Regions from separate parts of the Homo sapiens genome. Here regions 1 and 2 are each linked to region 3. The links come from fine-mapping of genetic effects on gene expression. A gene starts in region 3. Each other region holds a variant in brackets. All regions are shown on one strand. Distances are from middle to middle.

What was found. PIP is the estimated chance that this variant, and not a neighbour inherited with it, causes the effect.
Region 1: its variant is fine-mapped to the expression of KCTD5 in esophagus mucosa (GTEx, PIP above 0.99).
Region 2: its variant is fine-mapped to the expression of KCTD5 in whole blood (INTERVAL, PIP 0.99).

The regions. Positions count from the first base shown.
Region 1 is chr16:2,060,941-2,068,940 of GRCh38, forward strand. It overlaps TSC2 (TSC complex subunit 2), which reads left to right. Exons shown (of 42, transcript NM_000548.5): 12 at 931-1,068; 13 at 1,557-1,660; 14 at 2,032-2,113; 15 at 3,332-3,487; 16 at 4,579-4,695. Among named protein-coding and RNA genes, the nearest start is that of TSC2, 17 kb to the left of the region's middle. The variant T/C (reference allele first, on the strand shown) is at 4,092.
Region 2 is chr16:2,703,859-2,714,850 of GRCh38, forward strand. It overlaps KCTD5 (potassium channel tetramerization domain containing 5), which reads left to right. Exons shown (of 6, transcript NM_018992.4): 6 at 3,440-5,172. The coding sequence ends at 3,469. PRSS27 (serine protease 27) reads right to left here. Exons shown (of 6, transcript NM_031948.5): 4 at 10,207-10,478; 5 at 9,671-9,840; 6 at 8,564-8,956. The coding sequence ends at 8,762. Among named protein-coding and RNA genes, the nearest start is that of PRSS27, 11 kb to the right of the region's middle. The variant T/G (reference allele first, on the strand shown) is at 4,424.
Region 3 is chr16:2,678,767-2,688,162 of GRCh38, forward strand. It overlaps KCTD5 (potassium channel tetramerization domain containing 5), which reads left to right and starts at 3,757. Exons shown (of 6, transcript NM_018992.4): 1 at 3,757-4,034. The coding sequence starts at 3,783. RefSeq lists a silencer at 3,840-4,019 and enhancers at 4,115-4,725, 4,270-4,319, 4,390-4,439, 8,006-8,055, 8,416-8,705.

The DNA of each region.
Region 1 (8,000 bases), 620 kb before region 3:
GGTGATTCGCAGTGGCGCTCATCCACCTTCCACCGGAGACAGGTCTGATTTTTCCAGACGTGGTGCATCGTTTAGGCCCCAGACAGGAATATGCAGTAGGTGAGCCGGGGCTGGGCCAGTGCTGTCCACAGTCCGCAGAGTGACCTGCAGGCCGCCTTCGTGGCCTGAGTGGGCCCCGGCACAGTTCCCAGAGGGATGCCAGTGTGGCTTCCGCATGACTTTGGAGGACCGCATTAGTCGAGTCTGTTAACCACAGCTTTAAGGAGGACTCCACGGCCACACGGGCTCATCAGCATAGGGGCCCTGGGGAGGCGAGGCTAGTATCCAGCAGCCTCAGGGCTGTGCCTTTTCCTGGAGCCTGGGGCGGGTGATGTACAGGAGGCCAGGCAGCAGAAGGGAGGCCGGGACTTCGCCGGGACTTAGCAGGGACTGAAGTCCTCTCAGAGCCTGTCGCTGGGCCAGAGCATTGCCCCCGACCGCTGGTGGCAGTGGCAGAGGTCATAGCCTGGGGCTTCTAAAAGAGGCTGGACCTGGGAGAGGCAAGAAAGGCTTGTAGTTGTGGCTACTCTTGGCCCTCCTGCCCGAGCTTCCTTCTTGGCCCAGCTGCATGGGCACAGCCAAGATTCCTTGGGGGGTGGGGTACGGGCAGGAACAGCAGCTGCCATCACAGCCACTGTGGCCCCTTGAGAGGATCTGGGGGGTGTCCTGGGCCACGTGGGTCAGGGTGGCCCCTGGAGAGGATCTGGGGGTGTCTCAACCCATGAGGCCCGGAGCGGCCTCAGAGGGCTGGGGGCGTCTGTCCCCATGCGGCCCAGAGCGGCCTGAGAGGGCTGAGGGTGTCTCCATGCGGTGGGTGTGTAGCGAGGCCTCTGGTGCCAAGTCCATGTGGGGAGTGGAAGTCAGCCTGTGTCATCGTGCCTGGTACTGCAGACCTTGGACAGCCCGGAGCTCAGGACCATCGTCCATGACCTGTTGACCACGGTGGAGGAGCTGTGTGACCAGAACGAGTTCCACGGGTCTCAGGAGAGATACTTTGAACTGGTGGAGAGATGTGCGGACCAGAGGCCTGTGAGACCCCCTCCTGGGTGGGGCCTTTGGGCTTTGGCTGGTGGGGAGGGGCCGGGTGCTGGGTGAAGTGCAGCTTTCTGAGCCTCAGAAGCCAAGGGCCAGGTGGGCGCCTGCTTTCCAGGTTTCTGCACTCGGCAGGGAAGGCTGGCAGGCACAGCACGTGTTTGGTAACAAGCTCGGGGCTAGCCCACCCATCAGTTTCCTCCCACCTGTGTGGAGCAAGCTTCCATCCGGCTCTGTAGAGTCCTGTGGCTCCCAGGCGGCCGCAGTCATTTTGCCAGGAACACTCAGCTTAGGGCCCAGGCTTTTCCATGGGTTTGGACACAAGTCTTCCCCGCTGCCAGGAGTGCCTTTGTGTCTGGGCTGTGGGCTGCAGGCTGTGAGGCGGCTGGGCTCTGACAGCAAACCAGCCTCTCGACCAGCAGCCCAGTGTGGAGAAGGAGAGCGCCGGAGGGGCAGAGGGGCAACACCGGCTCTTCTTTTGACAGGAGTCCTCCCTCCTGAACCTGATCTCCTATAGAGCGCAGTCCATCCACCCGGCCAAGGACGGCTGGATTCAGAACCTGCAGGCGCTGATGGAGAGATTCTTCAGGTAGGGGGTCCTCTGTAGCCTTGCCTGGCACCTGGAGCCTGGCCCTGTCTCTGTCTGGGGCCCACCCGGGCTGGGTCTCAGGATGCCCGATGAGCAGGGCCCTCCCCTCTGCCTCTGGAGAGCCCTGGCTCTGGGTGAGCAGGTGCTAGCTTGCTTTCCAGTCCAGCAGGACAGGTCCTCTCATGACGCCACTGGGCTCCCTCTTTTCGGGGGTCGTCTGGAGAGATGCTCCCTGGGAAGCAGAGCTCTGTGCCCTGTGTGCCTGGCCGCGGGAGGACCCAGAGTCGGGCTGGCCTGCGCCAGGCAGACGGGCTGGTGTGGGGCTGTGGCCGGGCACTCCCCACCCGCCCCAGCAGGCTGCCGTCCCGCAGGAGCGAGTCCCGAGGCGCCGTGCGCATCAAGGTGCTGGACGTGCTGTCCTTTGTGCTGCTCATCAACAGGCAGTTCTATGAGGTGCGTGTCCAGGCGGCCGCAGCTGGGGGCTCAGGGCTATTTCTCCGTGGGCGGGCTGTCTCTGTTGTGCACGTGCTCCCGCAGAGCCGGGCTCTGCCTGGGACTTCGGTCCTGCCGGACCCTCTGCAGCCCCCAGCGTGGTCTGTTTACCCCTGTTCATTCACTGGCTTGCTCGTCCTGGGTGCCTCTGCCAGGCCTTGACACGTGGCCAAGTAGCAAGGAAGGCACAGTGCCTGCCCTCAGGGAGCTCCGGCCGGTTTTCACCCAACACAGGAGCCTCTTAAAAATTCTGTGTGAGTTCGTTTCAGCCAGTCTTGCATGGGGACATTGTCTTCCGTTTCAGTCCTGACGTTCACCCTGTGCACCTGCGTGATCGCCAGCCCTGCCTGGTCTCTCCTCTGCGGGCTCTCCCTCTCCACTCCCTCCTCTGGGAGCTCTGTGGCCCCAGGCCCACCTTCCTTGAGAGACATTTGTGTGCCTGCCAGTCATACCCCTTTCCCAGGAGGCGCAGCTTAGGCTCTGAGGCTGTCCCTTCCCACCGAACTCCTCCCTGCAGCCTCGCAGTCCTGCCCTCCTGAGAGCTGCCCACTCTGCTCCTCTCCCCAGCGTCCACTGTCCTTGAATTGCCCTTTGCTGGGCATTGCGATCCCGCATTCTGTCTGAGGGAGCTAAGGGCCTCCTGGAAGTTCCTCTGGGTCCTCTGGCTTCTCCCATCAGGGCTGGTCTTGTCCTGGTCTCTGTTCCTGTGGAACTTTTTACCTGCTTCTGTGAAAACTCACGCTGTCCTCAGCACAGCACGCACACACACGCATATTCACGCATGCACAGGCACACACGTGCACATGCCCACGCGTGCACACAGCCACACACACCCTCACGCACACACGCACAGCACCATGTGGGAGGGGTTCTCGGCTGTGACAGTGAAGGGCAGGGCCTCACCTCGGCTGCTCCTTGTGAGTTGTGGGCCCCGTGTCTGTGCCCGGCCGCCCTGCGGTGCTCACCAGCCTTCTGAACGAGGAGCTGGACAGGATCCCTGGAAGGGGCCCCGGGGTCTCTGAGTCGCGCTCAGCGGGTGCTTGTGCTCTCTGCCCAGCTGTGCTGAAGTCCCGAGGGACATGTCCGCTGCTTGCGGGTCGGTTCCTGAGGAATTGGAAGTGTCACGAGATGTGGCCCTCGTTGGGCTGGCGCTCATTGGCCTCCCTTGTGCCTGTGCAGGAGGAGCTGATTAACTCAGTGGTCATCTCGCAGCTCTCCCACATCCCCGAGGATAAAGACCACCAGGTCCGAAAGCTGGCCACCCAGTTGCTGGTGGACCTGGCAGAGGGCTGCCACACACACCACTTCAACAGCCTGCTGGACATCATCGAGAAGGTGAGAGCCGTTGTACCCGGGGCCGGGTGCTAGCGTGCCAGAGCTCCGTGGGCAGCAATGGCCTCTGGGCCCTCTGTCCTCCTCTTCGAGTGACCGGATGGCTGTGTCCGTAGGTGAGGCTCCCCTCCCTGCAGGGTGGGTGTCCCGAGGCCTGTGCAGGGCCTGCCACTGCTGGATTTGTGTCCTGACTGAAAGTCCTGGACATGGGTGTCCTGTCACACTCTGGGACAGCTGGGCTGGGCCTCCTGGACCGACGCTGGAGCCCAGACCTGGGGCTGGGGCTTTGGCCTGCCGTCCTCCCTGCCCAGCCAACAGCTTTGCTCTTTGATTTTCAGATGCATTTTGGTTTCTGCACAGTCACTCGGGTATAAAGGGCATCTTTGCTTTTGAGCAATAAAGATGAAGGCCGGGCACAGTGGCTCACGCCTGTAATCCCAGCATTTTGGGAGGCTGAGGCAGGTGGATTGCTTGAGTTCAGGAGTTCAAGACCAGCCTGGCCAACATGGTGAAATCCTGTCTCTACTAAAAATATAAAAATTAGCTGCACGTGGTGGCGGGCACCTGCAATCCCAGCTGCTCAGGAGGCTGAGGCAGGAGAATCGCT[T/C]GAACCTAGGAGGTGAAGGTTGCAGTGAGCCAAGATTCTGCCACTGCACTCCAGCCTGGACGACAGAGCAAGACTCTGTCTCAAAAAGAAAAAAAAAAAGGGCCGGGCACGGTGGCTCATGCCTGTAATCCCAGCACTTTGGGAGGCCAAGGCAGGCGGATCATGAGGTCAGGAGATCAAGACCATCCTGGCTAACACGGTGAAACCCCATCTCTACTAAAAATACAAAAAATTAGCTGGGCGTGGTGGCGGGCGCCTGTAGTCCTAGCTACTGGGGAGGCTGAGGCAGGAGAATGGCGTGAACCTGGGAGGCGGAGCTTGTAGTGAGCTGAGATTGTGCCACCGCACTCCAGCCTGGGCGACAGAGCAAGACTCGATCTCAAAAAAAAAAAAAAAAAAAAAAAAGGTGTTTGTGGTAGAAAGTGTTCTCACGGCTGCTGACTCAGAACCATGAGCCTGTGTGTAAGTCCTGGCCTTCTCTTCAAAGGTGATGGCCCGCTCCCTCTCCCCACCCCCGGAGCTGGAAGAAAGGGATGTGGCCGCATACTCGGCCTCCTTGGAGGATGTGAAGACAGCCGTCCTGGGGCTTCTGGTCATCCTTCAGGTGGGTGTTCTGCACGAGGCCTCTGCTCCCGGGGCGCGCATGGCTAGCGTCCACCAGCTGCATCTGCGTTGTGTTGGAGTCTGTTCCCCAGCGGGACCCACACCCTCCCTGGATTTGCTGAGGGTGCGGTGGTCTCAGCAGGCAGCAGAACCTTCCTCCTGCTCTTGTGGAGGGATGGATGCAAGAGGCCCCGTTGTACGCCCTGACCAGAGCTTGTCTCTGTGCTCCTGAGTCAGGGCCGGAACCATGTACCATCCTCAGCGTGGCGCTTGCCCTCGTCACCCAGCACAGCACCTGGGAAGTAAGGGTGGCCCTCCATTCCTGCCCTGCAGTCCGTTTAATATTTGCAGCTGTTTTGTTGAGATTTAATTTACATATCATGCAATTTACCCATTCACAGTGAACAGTTCAGTGGTTTTCAGTAAATTCACAGAGCTCTGCAGCCAACCCCACAGTCAGCTTGAGAACCTCCTGAGCATACCAGTAGCACACGCTCCCATCCCCCGTTGCTCCCGTACCCCCGGGTACCATCAAGCTGCTTCCTGTCTCTGTGGATTTACCTACTCTCAACATTTCATGGAAGTGGAATCACACAAAATTCATCCATAAGATGTTGGATGGTAGAACAGTTTCCTGTCTGCTGACTGGATTGTTCCACCCAGCGCCATGTGTCCAGGCCCGTCCAGGCTGTGGCAGCTGTTGGTGCTCCCCTCCTTTTCATGGCTGAGTAGTATTCCATCATCTGGAAGGAGCACATTTTGTCTGTCCGTTCCTCCATTGGTGGACATTTGGCCTGTGTCCGCCTTGCAGCTGCGGTGAGTGGTGCTGCTGTGAACCTTCTCCTACGAGGGCTCCGCCGGGCCTGCATTTTCACTTTTGGGTCTGCACCTAGGAGTGAATTGTTGGGCCCTAGGTTTAGTCTGCATTTGGTGTTTCAAGGCGATACCAGGCTGTTTTCCACTGGTGCTGTGCCATTTTCCATCCACTCGAGCAGCATGTAAGGGTTCTGATTTATCTTTTTTTTTTTTTTTTTTTTTTTTGATACAGTCTCACTCTGTCGCCCAGGCTGGAGTGGAGTGCAGTGGCGCGATCTTGGCTCACTGCAACCTTCGCCTCTTGGGTTCAGGCGATTCTCCTACCTCAGCCTCCTGAGCATCTCGTATTACAGGCACCTGCCAACATACTCGGCTAATTTTTTGTATTATTAGTAGAAACTGGGTTTCACCATGTTGGCCAGGCTGGTCTTGAACTCCTGACCTCAGGTGATCCTCCCGCCTTGGCCTCCCAAAGTGCTGGGATTACAGGTGTGAGCCACCACGCCCGGCCTGCCTCTACTTTTCAAAGCCTCACAGCATCACTTACGTGTGACTGTCAGTGTCAGTATCGTGTAAAATATAATGTATGAATCAGTTTGCTCAAAAGCTCATCCTTAAGATGTTGGATGGTAGAACAATTTCCTGTCATGTTTATATGTCATGGGTTTTTATTTCTTGCCATGGAAGTTGAAAGTGGTGATGATTTTTTTTTTTAATTAATTTTTTGAGACAAGATCTCACTCTGTCGCCCAGGCTGGGGTGCAGTGCTGTGACCATAGCTCAGTGCAGCCTTGAACTCCTGTGACCAAGTGATCGTCCTGCCTCGGAGGCCTCCCAAGTAGCTGGGACCATAGGCACACGTCACCACACCTGGCTAATTTTTTCATTTTTTGTAGAGATGGGGTCTTTATATGTTGCCCAGCCTGGCATCAACCTCCTGGCCTCAAGCAGTTCTCCCACCATAGCCTCCCAAAGTGCTGGGATTACAGGCATGAGCCACCACACCTGGCCGTGGTGTTTGATTAAAAACCAGGCATCAGCCGGGTGTGGTGGCTCATGCCCGTAATCCCAGCACTTTGGGAGGCTGAGGTGGGTGGATCACCTGAGGTTGGGAGTTCAAGACCAGCCTGACCAACATGGAGAAACCCCGTCTCTACTAAAAATACAAAATTAGCCGGGCGTGGTGGCGCATGCCTGTAGTCCCAGCTACTCGGGAGGCTGAGGCAGGAGAATCACTTGAACCCATGAGGCAGAGGGTACAGTAAGCCCAGATCACGCCATTGCACTCCAGCCTAGGCAACAAGAATGAAACAACGTCTCAAAAACAAAACAAAGCAAAAACAGGCATCACCTCCTTGGTGTCTCATCCACATGAGCACCATGCTCTTTACTGACTGGTTGGGAAGGGGTGTGCTGGGCTGTGGGGGCCTATGGCCTGGGAGAACTGAGAACCTTTCTGCTTCTGCAGAGGGAAGGAAAGAGGTTCTGTTGCCCTTACTTGGAACTCCAGCCCTGGAGGCCTGAGGGTCTGGGCTGCAGAACTGAGATATTTCCTAGTTGAGGCAGAGTCCTGGTTCTGGCTGCTTTCATTTCTTTATTTTTTTGAGATAGAGTCTCACCACTATGTCACCCAGGCTGGAGTGCAGCGGCACGATCTCACCTCACTGCAACCTCCGCCTCCCAGGTTCAAGCAATTCTCTTGCCTCAGCCTCCTGAGTAGCTGAGATGACAGGTGCGCACCACCACACCTGGCTAATTTTTGTATTTTTAGTAGTGACATGGTTTCACCATGTTGGCCAGGCTGGTCTCAATCTCCTGACCTCAAGTGATCCACCCACCCCAGACCCCCAAAGTGTTGGGATTACAGGCGTGAGCCATCGTGCCTGGCCTGTTTTCATTTCTTTTGTTATAATTGAAAAGTAACACAGTTGACTCTTGAACAGTATGGGGCTGGGAGTGCCAGCCCCTGTGCAGGTGAAAATCCCCATCTAACTTTTAACTCCCCAGAAACTTTACCAACAGCCCTCTGTTGACTAGAAGCCTTGCTGATAGCAGACAGTCTATTAATGTACAGCTCGTGTGTTTTATGTATTCTGTGTTTTTACAGTGAAGTAAGCTAGAGAAAAGCAAATGCTGTTAAGATGCTAGGCATGGTGACTCACGCCTGTAATCCTGGCAGTTTGGGAGGCCGAGGCGGGCAGATCATGAGGCCAGGAGTTCGAGACCAGCCTGACCAACATGGTGAAACCCCGTCTCTACTAAAAATACAAAAATTAGCTGGATGCGGTGGTGCGCACCTGTAATCCCAGCTACTCGGGAGGCTGAGGTAGGAGAATCACTTGAACCTGGGAGGTGGAGGTTGCAGTGACCTGAGATCGTGCCATAGCACTCCAGCCTGGGCGACAGAGAAAGACTCCGTCTCAAAAAAAAAAAAAAAAAAAAATCATAAGGAAGCGAAAATACATTTCCTGTTCCTTAAGTGGAAGTGGC
Region 2 (10,992 bases), 26 kb after region 3:
GAGTCTCGGATCTAGGAGGCGACCCCTGGCTCCCTGAGAGCCCCAGCTCAGTCACAAGGAGGCACTTCTCTTCCTCTTGGAGCAATCGTAGGGCTCTTTTCTAAATGGTTTTATTTTTAGAAGTTTTTTATTTCTGAGCTGAGTTTTTATAACCAAGCTCCCCTGGGCTCCTATCCCTCAGGTGGCTTGGCAGCTGCAGAAAGGACACGCTCTGTACTGTGAGGAAGCTCCAGGCATGACCCCAAATCCCTTTGTGGTTGAGAATGTGGCCCTATTTCATTTTCCAAAAATACCTGCTCTGAAGTGGGGCAGCTATGGCGGCTTCTTGATGGGGGTGGTGTCAGCAGTGCCCCAGGAGGCAGAGCTCAGGCCAGAGCCTCAGGAGGCCGTGGGGGATTGCGGGGGCCAGAGCTGGAGGACCGTGATGGGGGCACCCCTGGCTGGGCTGCGCAGGGCCGCATGGGCTGTGGGCCCTCGTCGCTGGTGTCCCTGCAGCATGTGTGGCCTGGCCCTGCTGGGCAGCTGTCCCCCACTTCAGTCAGCGGCGGCGGGAGAGCCTGGGTGGTGGGGCGGGAGGGGTTGCACCTGTAGCAAGTGAAGGCGGTCCACACATGAGCACACCTGCTTCCCACGCCAGTCCCTCAAGAACTTGCTAGAAGGACTCGCAGAGCTCACTGAGAGCGCTTAGACTCAAGGCCGCCATTTATTCCCAAGGAACAGAGAGAGACAGGCTCAGATCAGCAAGGGCGGGCACCTGGGCAGAGGCCGGGGTCTCCCAGTGCCTGGGCGGCTGAGGAGGGGGTTCCTTGGTGGTGTTGGGGCTCCATTGCGTAGCCATGCTCGATGGGTGCATCCACCGCCTGCCCCCGTGGCTGATCCCTCCTGTGACCCAGGGCCCCACCCTCCCTCCTGCAGCAGTGGGGCCAATGCAGTGGGGTCCACAGAGCCCACGCAGCAGAGGCCCTCCTATCAGGCCGAGATCTGTGGGCTAGCGCCGCCTGCCAGGAGTGGGGCCAGAGGCCAGGCGCCTCTGGACAGGGTTCAGCCCCTCAGCACATGGTGGGACAGGACCAGCCCCGGATCGCAAGATGCAGCCGCCTCACACGTGGAGGTTTCCACCTCTGAGATGTGGCAGAGCCCCTGAGCCTGTGTGTCCCCTCGTGGCGTGGCCTCACTGGAAGGTCACCGGGCGTGGGGGTTTGGGCCCGGGGCACCCGCCCACCCGCACTGTCCTGACAGCCTGTCTTCTCCCCCACTGCGCGCTGCACGCCGCCAGAGTGACGACGAGGACCAGGGGCACCCAGGGAGTGGCTCAGATTAAGTGTGAATGTCATGGTGAGCTCCGTGGCCTCCTTGACCCCATGGCCCCAGCTGACCCTTGCCACAGACCCTCCCTGTGTGTCTGTCCCTGCCTGTAGTTGACGAGAGCCGTCCGCACTCCATGCCAGCTGTAGATCCTCAGTAGCACTGTCTTGGTGGTGGGGCTGTTGCTGTGAGGCAGATGCCCAGGGGCAGTGTTGGGGCGTTTGTTGGGATGACTGGAGGGTGCCCGTGCCAGGCCAGGCTGTGGACATCAGTGGTCGTGAACCCAAGAGCCCCTCCTGGGGGCTGGGCAGGGAGTGCCACTCGTGCCGCCAGCCCTAGTGGGTGACCTTCCTGTCTGGCTTAGGCCACAGGCTCAGGGCCAAGGGGTCAGGACCAGTGCGGCAGACAGCAGACCCCTATCTCAGCTGCCAAATCCTGCGGCATCCCTGATGCGCTTAAGCCTCCCAGGCCAGCCGTGTCCTGCAAGCCCCTCAGCCACCCGGGCCTGCCTGCCTGTGGGGGTGTCTGGCCATGGGGTACAGCCTCAAGGGCCCCCTGGTTGGTGTCTGCAGTTGGACCTTCCTGTGGAAGATGGCCTAGGGAGACAGTGTGTCCAGAAAAGATGGGTCTCACCCCAGGCTCTGTCTAGAGTAGCCCGTGCTGCTCCCGGCCTTGGGAGGGCGAAGGACAGCACTTTGGCTGCAGGTCTCCAGGGTGTCTCCTGCCCTCATCAGGAGGGAGCTGTTGGGGCTCCCGGATGCTCAGATGCCACACTGCTCCTGGCCTGTCCGCTGCGCTACTTAGTTTTACACAGGGCTGGTGGGGGCTTGGGGGCTGCACTGTCTCCCCAAGTCAACTCCAGACATCCCAGTAAACTTGGGAATCACCCTGGCCCAGGGAGGGACGTGCTGCCCCTCGCACAGGGGGATGGGCTCCTCCGAGGCACTGGAGAGTGAGTGGGAGCCTCGAGCTAGAAGTGGTCCAGGGCACTGAGCCTGGGGGGCACCCGCCTGGGAACGGCAGAGCTGTTGGGGGGTGGAGTATTGGAGTCAGGCTGAGCAGCTCAGGGGACGTGGCCTCCAGGAGCCTTCGGAACAAGCCTGGGGTGGCATGCACCTCTCACCACTGCCCTCTCTCCGGTCAGTGCGGCATGGCAGTGACCTCTGGGAGGCTGTGCCCGGCGAGGGCGTGGGCGTTGCTGCCCTACCTGGTGTTGGGCAGCCCTCACGTGACACATGGAGACAGCTGTTGTGGGCCACGCACAGTGAGGCTGGCTGGCTCCGAAGCTCTCTGCTCGGGAGCGTGGGGTGATTTCCCCTCCACCTGGTCTCTGGAGCTGCCATGGCTCATTTTGGGAGTTCACCTCAGCAGCATTGGCCAGCGCCTGAGCCTGTCCTCAGGGGAGCCCAGGCCGACTTGGGGGTGGCCTCAGGGGGTTCCTGGACACTGGTGAGGGAAGTGGGGAGGGTACCTTGAGGAAGAGTTTTGAGGAGATTGGAGGGTGGGGAGGGCAGGGGGCCGAGGGGCCGTGGGCTCTGCAGGGCTGACGTGGTACAGATGAGGAGGGGATCCCCGCAGCGTGATCTGCACTTGGGGTAGGGCCCTCTGAGGGCTGGTGGTTGTTCCATGGGGCAGTCGGGAGGGGCCAGCACATGAGGTGGGCTGGCCAGGCTGAGGTGCAGGGCCGAGGGCTTGGGTGAGGGGCATCTCCAGGAGGGTCCGGGCGTCGGGGTGGGGGTGGGGGCTGCAGTGGGCATGGAGGAACAGAGGGAGAGACTTAATTGGGGAGGGGGGACTGGACTGCTGAGGGACCCGCGGGCCGAGTTGCGCTTCATGTCTGAGGCCCAGGACTGAGTGGGCTGAGAGGCCCAAGAGTCAGCGCCTTTGGGTGGGTCTGGGAGGGGCTGCCATGCACAGTGAGCGCTCCCTGTGTGGGGCCTGGAGATGTGCCAGACACCCCGGTGAAGGTCCTGGGCCTGCCAGCTGAGTCCCCAAGACCCTGGCCAGTGCCGCTGGGTTCCCGGGGCTCCCCGAGCTAACCCCAGGCCTGTGGGCTCTGTTTTCTGGAGCAGGCGCCTGGTCAGGGACACCTCCTCAGCCCAAGTCCTCATTTTATGCATTTGGTGTTTTTCAGATTTTGCAAGAACGAGGCTCAAGGATGTGAGGGACACAGTATTGACAGCTGAAGAAATGATTTACGTTTTCCCGAGATGTAATGAACTGCCATGTCCAGGAAGCTTGGCTGTGAGAAGAAACCTGCTTTTGATCATTTTTCTAGAGATCTGGGTGTGAATCCTTTTTTGCCTCTGAGGTGGGTGGTGAGAGACGGGCCCAGCTGTCCAAGGCCAGACGTCCCCAAGTTGGGGGAGCACGGCGGCCGGGTGGGCGCTGCCTCTTGGGGGGGCCTCGCTCTGTTTTTTCCAAGTGCCACGTGGGACTGAGGCAGACACTCCCAGTCAGCCCGCTCGATCCTGAAGATCGTGTGAAGGAAGCGTTCTTGGTGCTACACACAGTCTGGAAAAGCAGCCTGGGCTTCACTGGCAGGAAGCGGCCGCAGCCGCGTCAGTGTCCAGCACGTCGTGGCCTCTGGTCCGACCACCAGGCCCTAGTCTCGGTCAGGGAGTCTGCTCTGCCTCCCAGGCGGGATCGCTGGTTTCTCTCGACCTCGCAGAGCTCCTGACAAAGGCGGCTTCTGCGTCGTCACTGCTTCCCGGCGCCATTCCGAGGCCGGGCCTTCTTCTGACACGGGCTCCAACCCCACCTGACCAAGCCCGGGACAGTCAAGGCTTCTCAATTTGTATTTTCCAGGCAAGAGAACTTTGTACCCCTTCTCTGTGTGGATAGACTCCCCAGCGTTTTTCCTCTGGAAATGCCCACAGGGCTTGCCGCGTGGAGACTGATCTGTTCCATCCGTTAGCGCGAGGTAGCAGTGTCGCCTCGCCCCTCCCACTGCGGGCTCACGGGGAGCTGGCGTCTGTCAGTGCCTTGTCACGCCTGGCATAGAGGTTGGGCTGGAGGCCTGTCCACTGGCTTCTGGAGCTGAAGGTCTGCGTCACGGTGAAAATTCGGGATGTTTACAGAGCATCACAAATGCCTCTCTCTCGCCGCTCTCTCATTT[T/G]CTTTGTATAACTATGCAGCCTTCCCTCTCTTTCTGGGATGTTTGGGACTTCACTCGACCTGCACGGGCTCTGCCCGACATGCCGTGGGAGCTGCTGGGATTCCTTTAGAAACCGCTGCCCGCATGCTTTGAAAACAGACCTTTCTCAGCTGGCTGTGGGGACCTGTCAGAGTCTGGGGACTCGGCGTGCAGGGCGGGCTCCAAGCGCTTTGCTTCCGGAACTCCGGCTTCCCAAGGGGTACTGTGCAGACTGACCACCGGCCTCCCGCCTGCAGGTCAGAGGCTCTGACACTGTCTGGTTTCCAATGCTTCTGGAGACTTCCTGCCTAGGCCTCATCCTCCTCTTTGCCAGTCACCTGATTAACCAATTCTCCAGCATTAGGACTTACCTCCTTCTTTTTGTAAGGTCTCTTGTATGTTGTTAAATGTTTGGCTTAAACAATTTATAAAAGCCTTTCTAGAAGGCAGACTTAGCCCCAGCAGAGCCTGGGAGGAAGGCGGCCGCTGGGGCTCCTGGGCATCCTCTCTGGGGAGCTGCTGGCCGCTTAGCGTTGTTTGATTTTTGACCTTGACATAGTAGATAGGCTTGTGGTTTTTTTAATTTAAAGATATTAAGACTTAATTCACTAAAATTTATTCTAAGGGGATATTTATACTTTTATACTTTTTTAGGTATCGTATTTTATCAGCTTACAGTTTAATGCCTAAGTTTCCCCTGGAAATAGCAAATAAAATTGTGTATTTATGAATGCGCGTAGTAGCTGTTTATGGTCTTAAGATGCAGGGGAATGCCACCCCGGGTCGCTCGGACCAAGGTGCTGCCCCTCCAAGCCGCCCAGCCCCACTGGCCGCGGCGGCTCACTCAGGGCTCTGCCTCTGCCTCTCAGTCGATGGCCAGGGCGGAGCTGGGCCATCCACGGGGTGCCGGCTTGGCCAGGGTCACTGGATCAGAGCTGCACGGCCCATCCCTGCACCCCACTCTGCCTGGACCCCTCACCTACCTCCAGCAGATAGCATACCCCCATCCCGGGAGACCGGAGACCATGTACAAGGGCCTTTTTTTTTCCTTAAGAGACAGGGGTCTTGCTATGTTGCCCAGGCTGGTCTTGAACTGCTGGGCTCAAGTGATCCTCCTGCCTCAGCCTCCTGAGCAGTTGGGATTACAGGCGTGAGCCATTGCGCGCGGCTCAAGTGATGTTTTTTTGAAAGTCCTGATACCTCAAGTTAGCATCCACCTCTCTTCCCTCACTTTAGCCTGCAGCCTGGGTTGTGACAGCAGGAGCTTCCCGAGAAGGTCCTGGGGTCCCGGCACCCCCTCGCCAGCTGCTGTGACTCCTCCTGGTGGCTGCTCCACGAAGCCTTGGCTGTTGGACTCCCCGCCCCCCCGCAGGGAGATTCCCATTCACGGTGTCCCCCAGGGCCTGGCTGTCTGAGGTCACAGAGCCTCAGGCTGTAGTGGCCTTGTCCATCCTGTTTCCAGGTGTGTGGCTGGCCCAGCCTGACCCCAGGGCCCTGGTGAGGGGTGGAGTGGGTGACTGGGCTTCTGGGTGCCCAGCATGAGGCCGGCACGGGGCTTGGAGTAGGGGAGAGACCCAGTTTCTGCTCCAAGGGGTCTTCCCGCTGCCCGACTCCCACCAGGAGCCTGGCTAGGCCTTACAGCCCCTTGACCAGGTAGAGTTGTGGGCACTTGGGAGAAGCCTCAGCGTGGCAGGCGTCCCCAGCCAAAGCCCGGAGCAGGTTTCCCATCCAAGCAAAAGGCTGTAAAGGAGACAGGCCCTGCAGTTTGGGTCCTGAAGCCGAGGATGCTCAGGGCCGCTGGGTCTGCTGGGCAGGGAGGGAGCCCTGTTCCTCCTCAGACCTTGGGCTCCAGCACAGCCCGCCCGCTGTGGGGACTGGGGCCCAGCCCTGTGGCTCCAGGAAGCCAGCGTGGGGGCAGAAGAGGAGGCAGGGGCGGGGCACATGCAGGTGCCCTGCGTGGGTGCCCGTCCTCCCCAGGCTTCCTGTAGAGCCCATGACTGGAGCCCTCCAGCGGCTGGCACCACCCTCCTTGACATCCCTGCATTTATTGGTGTCCACTCAGCAGGGACTTCTAGCACCCTCCTTCCTCCTAAAGCTCGTGGCAGTGGCCGGCTGGGGCGATGAAGAGCTGACCCCACAGTGCAGCCACCAAGGCCCTGACGTGGCATCTGTGTGAGGGACGATGACTTCCGGCACCTCTGCACTGAGCCGTGCCCCCCAAGATGGGTCACTTTGCCCTCAGACCACCTCTTCCTCCCCAGTGTTCCCAGGCCTGGGGCTCGGCACAGGGAGGCCTGGCCTGTGGCTGACCCCTCACCGCAGTTCTGGCCCGAATGGAGCCCACAGACTTCTTTCCTGGGGCTCCCGCTCCTGCTCTGTGTGTGTGTGTGTGTGTGTGTGTGTGTGTGTGTGTGTGTGTGTACCTACTGGCTGTACATGGTGTGGGTGTGGTGTGTGCCTGTGTGCACATGGTGTGTGTGGCATGCACATGTGTGCTGTATGTGATGTGTGGCATGTGGTGTGTGCTTGGTATGTGGTGTGTGCCTGTGTGTGGCATGTGACATGCATGTGTTGTGTGTGCCTGTGAGTGGCATGGGAATGGTGTGTGTATGTGTGCACATGGGCCAGCTGAGCCTGGGGATGAAGGCTGCCGCCCGCTCTGCCTACCTCCCTGTGAGCCACAGAATGTGCGCGGGCCTGTGCCAGGCTCTCCCTCGAGTCCCTCCTGGAGCTGGCAGGGGCCCTGCTGCCGCCCACCTGGCAGATGGCTCAGAGCCCTGCTTGGCAGCAGCGTGCAAAGTCTGAGCTGCACCCCCGCCCCAGGATGGAAAAGGGACCTGTGGCAACCTGGACTATTCCCTTCCTAACGTCCTTCTCACGGCATGCTTCGTGGGAGCTGTTAATTGCATGAAATAGCCCTGTTTTCCCTTCTCAACCCCTAGTCTCTGTAGAGAGTGTTTTCTGCTCCTCTCCCACGGGCATCTGCCTGTTGACATCCTGGGTCTGGGTGGGGTCTCAGCACAAAGACAGCAGGGGCTGCCCTCCCTAGACCATCTAACCTGTAGCCTCCCCTCTGACCACGGGGGCCTGGGGCTCCTTGCACAGCCCAGAGCAGGGTGCAGGTTCACCCAGGGCTCTCCGAGGCTGGGAGGCCTGGCCAGTCCCTGCTTGGCTAGGACCACCCAGTGCTGCTCCCTGGGCCTGCCTCTCCCTCCACCTGGGCTTCGTGCATCTGCTCCCCCATGGGGCTGTGCGCACAGGCCCCCCAGACCTGCCCACCCACCCCTGGGCTGGAGGAGTGCAAGAAATGGCCCACGGGGGCCACTGGGCAGCCGTTGGGGAGATGGGTCGGGCCCAGCGGGGAATTCCTTCTGTTTTGCTCCCCACGGTGTCCCCAGCAGCTGCTTGCTGAGTGGGTGTTGGTTTGATTCCTTGGTGGACACTCAGGGCCTGATTTCTTCCTGCCGCTGTACAGGCCACGGTGCCTGTGTGTGTGTGCACGGGTGCGTGTGGGTGTGATGTGCATGTCCAGCCTAATCCCCTTGCCACCACGCACTGCTCTGGACTCCTGCATGGGGGTGGAGACTGAGGGATGGGGCGGAGGAAGAGGAGCCAAGGGTCAAGGGGAGACGCCGGGGCACAGGGAGACGAAGGGTGCCAGGAGCAGTGGAGCAGGAAAGCACAGGTGTGGGCACCCACTCCTGCCGAAGTGGTTTAGAAAAGTTGGGTGGCCCCGAGACACGGGCAGCCGGAAGTGCAGGCTTGGGAGGCTGAGGTGCCCCCGCCCAGCCAGTCCCTCCATGCCCTCCTCTCGCCCCGGCACAGCTCCTGCATGGCCCTGAGGCTCTTTCCACCTGTGTCCGTCGCTGTCCCCAGTGCCAACCCTGGGGCGGCCTTTAAGGTGAGAGAACAGAGGCACAGGTGGCAGCAGGTGGCCTCCTGTGCGGGGCCCGTGACAGGGGTCCCATACTCTGGTGCTGTCCTCGCCTCGGGCACCAGCTGCAGCTCCCTTCTGCTGATTCAGAGATGACCAGAGCACTCCGCATCTCCCACCTGGGCTTCATCCTGCAACTCACAGCTCCTCACCCGCCGGGGTCCCCCAAGGATCCCCACGTGGGCAGCTGGCACACAGGCTGGGTTTTTATTGGGAGAAACATAAATAAAATAAGGGTATTTGAGAGGGGAGGAAGGAGCGCTATTTACAAATGAGTCTGGTGGGGCTCACAGGTGCAACAGCAGCGCTGGGAGGACCAGCAGGATGGTGTGGGCGGGCAGGCTGGGTGCAGAGCTCTGCTCAAGGGGCTCCTGGCCCCGGGGGTCTCACTTCTGGCCGCCCAACCTCGCTGGCTGGAACTGCAGTTTGGGGATGATCCGATGGATCCAGTTGTGGTGGGCGGTGACACGGATGTAGACACCTGGGCGGTTCTGGCGGGCACAGCCCTCACCCCAGCTGATCACCCCCGCCTGCAGCCACGACTGACCCACGAGGCACACCAGGGGGCCGCCCGAGTCGCCCTGCGGGGGACGCAGAGTCACCGTCAGAGCCCACCTTGAGTTCCCAGAGACTCAGTTGCAGCCGCACAGGAGGTGTGTAGCTCCGCAATGGATTCCTTCTCTCCATCCCAGAGCCTCTCTGCCCGGCTCCCCATCCCCTGCCAGTCCGATTGTCTAAAGTGCCTATTCTTTAGTGTCCCCAGATCAACTAGGGTGTGTGTGTGTGTTGAAAATGCAGTTTCTTGTGCCCCACCCCAGACCCACTGACTCTGATCCTTCTGGGGTGGGGTCCAGGAATCTGCTTTTTCTTTTTTTTTTTTATTGAGACGGAGTCTTGCTCTGTGGCCCAGGCTGGAGTGCACTGGCGCGATCTCGGCTCACTGCAAGCTCCGCCTCCCAGGTTCGCGCCATTCTCCTGCCTCAGCCTCCCAAGTAGCTGGGACTACAGGCGCCCACCACCACGCCTGGCTAATTTTTTGTATTTTTAGTAGAGATGGGGTTTCACTGTGTTAGCCAGGATGGTCTCCATCTCCTGACCTTGTGATCCACCCTCCTTGGCCTCCCAAAGTGCTGGGATTACAGGCGTGAGCCACCACACCCGGCCCTGGAATCTGCCTTTTCAAAACAAGCTGCTCAGCTGGTTGAATGCATAGCCCATGGAGCGGGGCATGATCCCACCCTGCCCTGGGCCTGGCGGTGGGGACTGAGTCCCCATGGACACCACATTGCTCCCACCTTGCAGGCATCCTTCTTGCCCTCCTCGAAGCCGGCGCACAGCATGTCATTCTTGATGGTTTTGGGTTGGTAGCCAAACTCGGTGTCTTTGCTGTAGAGCAGGTTGCACTTGGGTGTGTCGATGATGGGCACAGCGAGTTTCTGCAGGATCCGCGGTTCGGGCAGGAGGTCTGGAGAGGGGCGGAACAGCCCAGGGCTCAACGGACTTCCTCATCAAGAACCCACGGCCCCGGGAACCACCACTCCATCCTGCCTGTCGTTTCCTCATGTTTAGACCATCTCTGGCTTAGGGCACTGTGGGGCAGACATCCTCCCTCCTTCCAGGCAGCAGGCTGGGCCCTTTCTGTCCCCCTCTCCCTTCACCCCCTCTTCCTTCTGGGTCTGCTGCTGCTCCCCTCGGCCCCACCTGTGTGAACAGAGACCGTGTGTATGTATTAATATAGCAACAGGAAGATTGTGGGTTCAGAGTGGTCCCCAAGCCGTCCTGGGCCTTCTTGAGGCATATCCCCCATTCTTTCCCAGCCCTGTCCCCTTACCTTCCTCACTGGGGCTGCCCCAGCCAGTGACCCAGCAGTTCATGCCCGTCTCAAAGATCACCGAGGGGTCAGGCAGGCACACGGGGAGGATGTAATTGGTGAAGGGCACTGGTGCCTCCAGCTCCACCAGGGCCACGTCAGCGCTGGAGGCCGTGCCCTGGTACAGGGGGTTGCTCTCCACCTGCCTCACCCGGGCATACATAGCGTGTGGTCCCGGCTGCACTAGCTGCCTTGCCCCCAGCAGGACCTGGTACAGGGACGTCTCAGAGGTGCTGGCGGGAGAAACAGAGAGGCGGCGTGAGGCGGCCCCTCGTGTGGGGACAGGCCCGGGAGGGGCTGGGGCTCCTCTGGCCACCACCGTGCCCCACACCTCTCTCTGCACAATGTCTTCGAGAGTCATCTCTAGGACAGCCAGGTGCAGCGGTGATGCGTGTTGACATTGAAGCCAGACCGCCCGACTCAGATTTCCACCTCCACCCCTGGCCGCTGTGTGGCCTTGGGCAAGTCACTTAACAAGTTCTCTGTGATGCAGCTTTCTCACCTGTGCTGTGGGGACAGTCACAGTGCCTACCTGAAAGGCTGGCTCGGAGAGAACCACCCTCCAGGTGCAGCAGGGCCAGCCCCACCTGCGGGCCTCTGGCAGGTGACCTGCCCTCTCTCAGCCCGAGTTTCCGATTTTTTTTTTCCCCTAGAGACAGAGTTCTCATTCTGTCACCCAGGCTGGAGTGCAGCAGTGCAACTGTAGCTCACTGCAGCCTCCAACTCCTGGGCTCAAGCCATCCTCTC
Region 3 (9,396 bases):
CGGCACAAAGTGGAGGGAGGCTGTGGTCGCTGCCGGCCTAGGTGTCCCAGGTGCCCCGCCTTTCTCTGGGACACAGTTGGGGGCTGGCTTCTGAGGGATTCCTTTCTCCCCTCTTTGTGTGGCCCCAGCCAGGGCGGTGGGCAGTCCTGGTGTAGAGCACAAGCCTCTCCACCCTAGAGAAATGCCTCTGTACCACGGCTACCATGTGGAACCTTAACTTGCAGAAGGCTTGTTAACAATTGTTTTGAGAGAGATGGCTGGTCATGCCACAGCTGCTGGGGACTCCGCCTACTCCAGCCCTCTTGGGACACACTGTGGGATTTGTGGCCCTTCCCCAGAGGAATTGTGGAGACTGTCCCATGGAACAAACCCTCAGGCACCAGCACAGGGCTCTGGGTGACTCAGTAAAACTAACGTTTGTCTCTGACAAGATCAGCTGTAGGCTCACCGGCCAGAGAAGACCACTGTGAGCATTTTGCCGTATATCCTGCCCTGCCATTTGTTCACTTTTTAAACTAAAATAGGAACATCCGACACACACCGTTTGCATCGTCTTCTCCCTTGATATTTTAAGCATTTTCCCATGTCATGAGTTTCTCAGAAACATGTTTTTAACAATTGTACTATTTAGTCATTGTCCATTTACTATAATTTATCTGACCATTTCCCTACTGTAAAATACTTGACGGTTTCTGATTTTTCCACTATTTAAATAATGCTGTGATGAATATCTTTAAAATCTTCTGATTTCTTACTTTTTTTCCCCTTAGATGCCTGGAAGTGGTATTTTGAGGTGAAAGAGTTTGTTCATTTTGAAGATATTTCTGTCTCTCTCTCGACCTGATGTGTAGACGCTCAGTTCCAGTAGCAGAACCACCTTAGTTGTGTCTTACAGATTCTGAACAAATCGGTTTCTGATAAGCCGTGTGTTCCAAAGAATGTCTGAATAAGACCGCTCTTTATTTAAATGCTAAGAGGATGTCACTACTGCAATCCATTTGTGGCCGATTTTTTCCAAGAGCCAATTTCCTTGTTTTGGTTGCAAGAACCTGGCTCTGCCTGCATGTCAGCTCTCTGCCCTCCCTGCTGCCGTGGCTTTCAAGCGCTTGGCGATATTTTCAGAATCTTGTACTTCATGTCCACAATGGTATTGAATTTGCAACTGCGCAGTCAGCAGAGATAACAAGTGTTGAACTGACCTTGCCACATGCTTAGTGAGTGATCTGTAATTAAGTTTATAGACTCAGAAAGTACATTAGGCCATTTGGAGTCAGTAGCAGAGCAAAGCCTCTACTTGAAAAAAACCACGTAGCTGATTGGGTTTTACAAGAGTGCATTTGTCTCCCCCTTCCACCCCCCCACCTTCAGGTCTTAGTGGTTCACAAGAGCCCAGCAGCCAGGCTGGCTTTTTCATTGTAGGGCGTGGTTGTCCCAGCTGGTGTAGATTTCAGGCCGCCTCCCCCCATCTCCCTGCCCACAGTGTTGCAGATTGCCTGGCTGGCAGCAAGTCCAGACCACCCAAATTTGGTTGGATTCTTCATTTCTCCACTGTAGTTGGGGTCCATTGATTGTGCAGGGGAACGTGCAGGAGGTTTTTCTAGGCACTGCGTTCAGTGCTGCTTCACTCTACCAGAGATTATGGCCAAATTGCACGGAATTTGGTTTCTTGCCCTCTGAAGCCTGAGGGCCCCCCCTTGCCTGGCTGGTTGACAGACCCGGGGTGCTCACTGCTGAGACTTCAGAGATCGCAGCTGCTGTGAGAATACGGTGAAGGTACTATGTTCTGGAAGATGTTGTCATACACTTTTCCCCAGTTATTTTCAAACTTGACATGAGCCTATGTTGACTCACTGGGTGGGGTCCCTTCTTACGCAGCACACGTGGCAAGTGCCTGAATCGGGGCTGGAGGCACTTCAGAGCCTCTGAGGGGCCACCACTTCTGGCCCAAAATTGCAGGGTTGTAGATGAGGCTGCCTGTGGAGAACTGGTGTGAGGAGGAAGCTGTTTCCAACAAAGAGCACTTTCATCTGTTGAGATGGCTGTGGTGAGCAACTGAACGAGCCTACGTGTGTACCTGAATTTTCCCCATAACTCATTTCTTCCATATGAAGAAACACCAAACTATGTACAGAGAACTTTTTACAAAAGGCAGACCTTTTTTAAGCTGTGTAACCCACATAGCCTAACCGTCTGGCAGAATGACTACGAATAGGGGTCATTGTGCTGGTAAAAGCCTCTATTACGACTGTTAAGTTGGATGTTGGCAAAATTAAATTGTTACAGTATTTAGAGCTGCTGTAGCTGTTCCTTCACAACATGAAATAGGATAAATGACTAGTACGTCTTTCAGGTGGGTGGCAGTCAGAACATGCGTAATATTCTCTACCTGGTCTGTAGCTGTAACTGTGATGTACAGACAAAGCAAAAATTAAAAGAACTCATGAAAACAAATAATACAATGGTATTAGGATATACACTTTTGTGTTTTTAATCTTATAGAAGGTTATTTGCTGGCTATTGTTGGCCTCTAGTTCAGCCTGTTATTTAAATTCTTTTTTTTTCTTGAGACGGAGTCTCACTCTGTCGCCCAGGCTAGAGTGCAGTGGCCTGATCTCGGCTAACTGCAACCTCCGCCTCCTGGGTTTAAGCAATTCTCTGCCTCAGCCTCCGAGTAGCTGGGATTACGAGCGCCCACAACCACATCTGGCTAATTTTTTGTATTTTTGGTAGAGACGGAGATTCACCATCTTGGCCAGGCTGATGTTGAACTCCTGACCTCGTGATCCACCCACCTTGGCCTCCCAAAGTGTTGGGATTACAGACATGAGCCACCGCGCCCGGCCTAAATTCTAATATATGAATTATTTGTATTGAATTCATGTTCGGGGCCACGTTGTTATATGTATTGATATACAGCCTTGAATGTGAATAATTACTATATATTTTACAACTTTTTTCTGGCTTTATTACAAAAACTTTCTTTTTTTTTTTTTGAGACAGACTCTCGCCCTATCACCAGGCTGGAGTGCAGTGGCGAGATCTCAGCTCACTGCAACCTCTGCCTCCCGGGTTCACGCCATTCTCCTGCCGCAGCCTCCCGAGTAGCTTGGATTACCGGCGCCCACCACCGCGCCAGGCTAATTTTTGTATTTTCAGTGGAGACCGGGCCTCACCATGTTGGCCAGCGTGGTCTCGATCTCCTGACCGCCTGATCCTCCCGCCTCGGCCTCCCAAAGTGCTGGGATTACAGGCGTGAGCCACCAGGCCCCGCCCTTATTATATAAATTTTCTATTGGGTCAATGATTTAATCATATAATTTAATGAATCTGTTCTTTTTTTCCCCCCAAATATTTGTGCTTTAGGTGTAGTTACCAGATGATGAATTTTCCTCCTATGCTCCGTAGTCTTGTAATAAAAAGCATGTACAGTGTAGACGTTTGCTGGCATGGCTCTTCCTTTGACCAGTTCATGAACTGGAGTCAGGGTGGGGGTGAAGGCTAGGGTCGAGGTCTGGGTCAGGCGCTCGTGCACCGCTCGTGGGAGGTCGAGGCTGATGTCCGCTGCTCCCCATCAGCGTTAGTGCCCAGATCACCCCGTGCTCCGCTCCCGCCGGAAGCGGGCCCAGCCTCCTGCTTTTCGGGACCGGAACTTCCGCCTACCGCGTGACGCCGGGGCGGGCGCTCTACCAGGGCGGACCTGTGGGCGGGACAGAACTCAGAGGACGCTATTAAAAGCCGGACGCTTCCGGTGGAAGGGAGCTGTTGCGGGGCTTGCTGGGATCATGGCGGAGAATCACTGCGAGCTCCTGTCGCCGGCCCGGGGCGGCATCGGGGCGGGGCTGGGGGGCGGCCTGTGCCGCCGCTGCAGCGCTGGGCTCGGCGCCCTGGCCCAGCGCCCTGGCAGCGTGTCCAAGTGGGTCCGACTCAACGTCGGCGGCACCTACTTCCTCACCACTCGGCAGACCCTGTGCCGGGACCCGAAATCCTTCCTGTACCGCTTATGCCAGGCCGATCCCGACCTGGACTCAGACAAGGTGAGGGCCTCACGGGCCAGCCCGGAGGGTCCTGGCCTTCCCGGCCTGCGGCTCCTGCACACGCCCTGCTTCGTGCGGAGGAGACTTCAGCGGGAGCGGGCGACTCTCCTCGGGCTTCGAGCCCCGCGCTCCCTTGTCGCCAGCTCCTCCCCAGCTTGCCCCGATCCCCTACCCTGGGAGGGGAGGGTGAGGATGGCGCCCTGGCGTCCACTGCCTTTGAGGATCCTGAGTCGATTCACCTTGGGGGTGTCTCTTCCTCGCCCTCTTTGCTCTTTGGTGGAGGAGGCTTCCTAGACCCCGGACTTTGCTGTGATTCTACTTTCTTTTTCTCACTAGGTTCTTTTGCCCAGGGTGTGTGAACGCCTTCTCTTCTCTGTCCCAGGGTACTTGCTGGCTCTGGAAACAGAACCCTTGGCGTTGTTTCACATTCTGGACGTTTGAATTAACGCTGACGTGGGGGTTGATATGGGCGGCCCTTTTTTTCCCTGGTGACTTGCATTTAGAGAGTTGGCGCTCCATCCTTTCCATCCACAGCACGCAGCACCCACTCAGCACCTCTTAGAAGATGCGTCCGTAGTATATAGTATGATTTTTCGAAGGGGATTTTGCTCATATTAAGGGTTGCTTTAGGGATGTCCAGGAAGGGTCAGGTAAGGAATCTTTCAATCTGCTTTCTAATTGGCTTAGTTTTCCCACTGTCTTCGCAAAAGGACAGGAATTTCCAGGTTAGTTTGCAGCTTGTCTTTCATCAAGCGAAATGCTCATGCTGTTGGGTAGATGGTAATAGAAACCTTTTGCTACCTTTATTTATCAAGAGTTGTGGAGCCGAGGAACCGTGTCTTGGGAGTTGTGCAGGATTGAAACTCACAAAAAAGCCTGTTTGAAGAAGTTGTTACCTATATTTATTCAAGGCAGTTCACAAGCCTTATACTAACTTTGCGGGGTCTTTCAGTTGAGCTTACATGACTGCGCTTGGCTTTGTGCCTTGGCAGCCAACATTTGCCATGCAGGAGGCTTCCCAGAAAGGTTCGGATCCCTCTTCAAGTTTGAGAAGCCTGACTGAGACCATTCTCAGCATGGCATGACCGTGATCAGGAAGTGAGAATCTGGAGTTACTGCTAAGGCAGCCTTGTGGGTGGAAATGAGGGTTTGAGATGCCAACCCTCCTGTGCCTCCCCACAACTTCCAACTGTTTCCATTGCTCATTTGACCAAGCCCTCTACTCAGAGAATTGACCTCCCAGGAAATGACAGTCATCCCCAGGATAGAAATAGGCGTTTGTTAGCTGTGATTTTCCTTTTATAAGTGTGGGTGTATGTTTTACTGTTTGGTTTTTCTTTTTAAATAACAGGGCTTAGTGGTCACTCCCTTGCCTTTCTACTCAAGCATTCCTGTTTTGTATATGAAATTAGAGTTTAAATTGCTCTTGTCCATTGGGTTCTTTGAGGCAATGGTTGTCTATTCAGCACTGGAGCACTTGATTCCCAGTTGATGAACTTTAGCACAGTTAAGGTGGTTGATCCCTTTGCTTTACTGTTCCTTAAGACTTTGTTAAAAATTATGGGCCAGGCGCGGTGGCTCATGCCTGTAATCCCAACACTTTGGGAGGCCCAGGCAGGTGGATCTCGTTCAAAACCAACCGGGCCAATATGGTGATGCCCGGTCTCTACTAAAAATACAAAAAGGTGGGCGCGGTGGCTCACGTCTGTAATCCCAGCACTTTGGGAGGCCGAGGCAGGCGGATCACGAGGTCAGGAGATCGAGACCATCCTGGCTAACATGATGAAACTCTGTCTCTACTAAAAATACAAAAAATGAGCCAGGCGCGGTGGCGAGCACCTGTAGTCCCAGCTACTAGGCAGTCTGAGGCAGGAGAATGGCGTGAGCCTGGGAGGAGGAGCTTGCAGTGAGCCTAGTTAGCGCCACTGCAGTCCAGCCTGGGTGAAAGAGCAAGACTCCATCACAAAAAAAAAAAAATAAAAAAAAAATAAGCCAGGTGTGGTGGCGCGTGCCTGTAGTCCCAGCTACTCTGGAGGCTGAGGCAGAAGAATCGCTTGAACCTGGGAGGTGGAGCTTGCAGTGAGTCAAGATCACGCCACTGCACTCTAGCTTGGATGACAGAGGAAGACTCTGTCTCAAACAAACAAAAAAATGCTTTACTGTAGGAATCAATTCTTTGAGCGAGGGGTAATTAATCTTTCTGAATATATCTGTGTTATACTTGCTCTTTTCATCATCATCCATTTAACCAGGTTTGATTTCCAAATGGTAAACTCAAATTCAGAACATGAAGGTAAAGTAGCAGATACAGTCGTCTCTGTCTCATACAATAATTGGAGTAGGGGCCGGGCAAGGTGGCTCACGCCTGTAATCCCAGCACTTTGGGAGGCCGAGGCGCGTGAATCACCTGAGGTCAGGAGTTTGAGAGCAGCCTGGCCAGCATGGCAAAACCCCGTCTCTACTAAAAATACAAAAAAATTAGCTGGGCATGGTGGCGCGTGCCTGTACTCCCAGCTACTCGGGAGGCTGAGGCAGGAGAACCACTTGAACCGAGAGGCAGAGGTTACAGTGGGCTGAGGTTGCGCCACTGCACTCCAGCATGGGCGACAGATCGAGACTCTGTCTCAAAAAAAAAGAAAAAAGAAAAGGAGAAAACAATAATTGGAGTAAATAAGGTTAGTTTTAGTGACAGATAGTTTGCCAAAAGTGTAGTGCTAATTCATATTAGTCACGTTACTAAAGTGTTTTCCGGTGTTTTTCATCAAATGAGGAAATGTGTAAAATGCTTCATCTTAGTTTTGTCTCCAGTGGCTCTGATGAAAGAATGTCCCAGGAGATTCCTCCTAATTAAATGCTGACTGAGGAATCTGAGGAGGGGGGGAAGGGGTGTCAGGAGTGGGAGGCCATTAATGACACGTTGGAAGACAAACAGGATGTTGATTCACCTGTAAAGATCTCCAAGGCCTGACCTCAGAGTTGAGATTAAGGAAAGAATATTCCTCGAGTTGGACTTAAGCATGGATCTGGTGGAAGAGTCCCTGCCTGGATTATTAGACTTGTGTGGAGTGAGCACCTGGGCTTGCAGAGTGTGGGGGTCTGGAGAGGAGTTGGGTGGGGAGATTTAAGGGGGAGGAGTTCCCAAGAAACCACAGAAGCTTTGGGTGCCTGAGAGGTTGGGAGAGCACCCTGCTAAAGCATCCTATCTGGTAGGGAGGGGAGCTCTTGACAGACGGGTTGTTAGGGAGGGTGGTGAAAGCCACGCACATCAAGGGGCTGGCTTGATTGCCCTCTGGCCCCACATCTAAGCTTCTGGGCTGTGACTGCCCCCAACCAAGTCCTCAGAGCCCAGCTTGGGACCCACCACCCGCCATACTCCACGCTCCCAAGCCCTTACTCTGCTGTTCCAAGGGCCGACCTGCTGCCACAAAGTTCTCTTTCTAGACAGCCCGGTGTGAATTCTCACTTCCTCCTGGGACTTCCTCCAGCAGGACTGTGGCTGTGGTGAGCATTTCAGCATCTGCTCATCTGCTGTTCTGTCATCTTTCTCTTCCTTGGTGTCTTCGAGGGCAGGCCAGGTGGAATACGGCTTCCCAAAGACTCGATTCATTTTGGTTAGGTCTCTTGTATTGCATGGTCCCCGGCCCATAGGCATTGTTGAAAACAAAGTCGAGTTTGTTGTTTCCAGCTAAAGCAGCCCCTGCTTTAGTGTGGAGATACTTGAGGAGTTAAAAGGAAACAGGAAATACTACTGCTTTATGGTTGGAAACCACTCAGATGGAGGAGAATTTGGGGAGGCTTCGGTTCCTGCAGCTGAGGCAGCCTTGGAGAAAACTGCACGTGAACTTTTGCCCTTTGAACAGGGCCGTTGTCCCGGCTTGAGGGTTCCAGATGTGGTGGCATCAGATGGGTCTTTGAGGGGTGGGGCAGTCAGGGTGCCTCTAACAGTGTACTGGGTGTTGGCAAGACCTCGGGGGTGGAAAGTTATGGAAGGAATTGTTCAGACAGGGCCCAGTGATGGGGTGTGGGCTAGAGTACCGTCTTTGAAGCCGCTTGGCAAGAGAAGTGGGGATCACGTCTAGTGGAGATGGCAGATGATGTTCTGTGTAGCCAGCACTGGTGAGAGCTATGGTGGCCTCAGTTTGAGGCCGTTAGTGGGTGTCTGCGACGCTGATGGACTTTGTTTCACGCTTCAGTTGAGGATGTGGCTCTGAGCACGATCTTCGCTCTGACCACAAGTCATCTTCTATTCTGGACCTCTGCGATGGTCCCTGCGGTGCTGGGGGCTCCCCGCTCCTTCCCCACTGCAGCAGGTGCTGGTCCTCAGCAAACCTGTGCTCACCTCTTTATCAGGTGCCTCACCTGAAGCCCTTTAGACCTTAGGCCACGAGTCAGTTCCATAAATTCCTGAGAAAAGGACTCGACTCTGGTGATGAAATGGAACGTTTCTGATGGGTTCAGTCCTACCTAGGAAGAATGAAAGAAAACAGTTTTGAGGCTTTCTGAGAAGAGCTTGTTTCGGGGCACCTGACATGGGCCCGCGGTCTTCGGCATTCTCGCCTCCAGACTTCTGCGGGTGGCTGGGAGGAAATGCTGTCGCTGCAGGGCAGTTCCTCTTTCTGGCCCTGCAGATACAGCCTTCAGTGGCTGTCGTCCAGCAGGGCAGTGACTAGTCTTGGTTTAGAGCAGGAGTCAGAAAGCTGGTCCACCTGCCTGTTTTTGCAAGTAAAGTTTTACAGGAATGCAGAGATGCCCATTTGCTTACGGATTGTGTGTGGCCGTTTTTGCTCTGAAAGGTCACGGAGTGAGGTCTAAAGCCTCGCCAGGGCTGTGGCCGTGATGGGGGCGCCTGCTGCCTGGTCTCGCCCCGGCCCTGTCGTTAACCACCAGGCATCCCAGGGACTCCTTTTCAGACACTTGTAGGCACTTTGGTTCTTTTAGCAGCCCCCCTCCACGCCCCAGGTAAGCAGTCCCCAGGCATGGTCTTTAAAGCCTGGGGAAGAACCTGCCTGCCTGGCGCCATGGGAGGGGTCCTTGTAGCAAAGGTGCCAGCAAGCCATCTCTCTCCCAGGACATGCTTGTTCTCCCTGGGCGTCAACTCGGCAGTTCTCCATGGACTGCAGAATGTCTAGAACATTCTGGCCTGGGGTTGATGTGACAGAGCATCTTCCTTGGAGTTGGGGAGCCTGGGTTGGAATCTGCCCACCTCTGGCCTGCCTTATGACTTGGGGTGATTTCGTGCCCCTGTGAGCTGTGCTTTCTTCCTCTGTAAAGTCCTTACTTTACTGTGACGTCCTCTCCTGAAGATGACAAATGTGATGCCCCCGCCCCGTACCTGGTGCCAGGTCAGTGCAGTCAGGAGAGG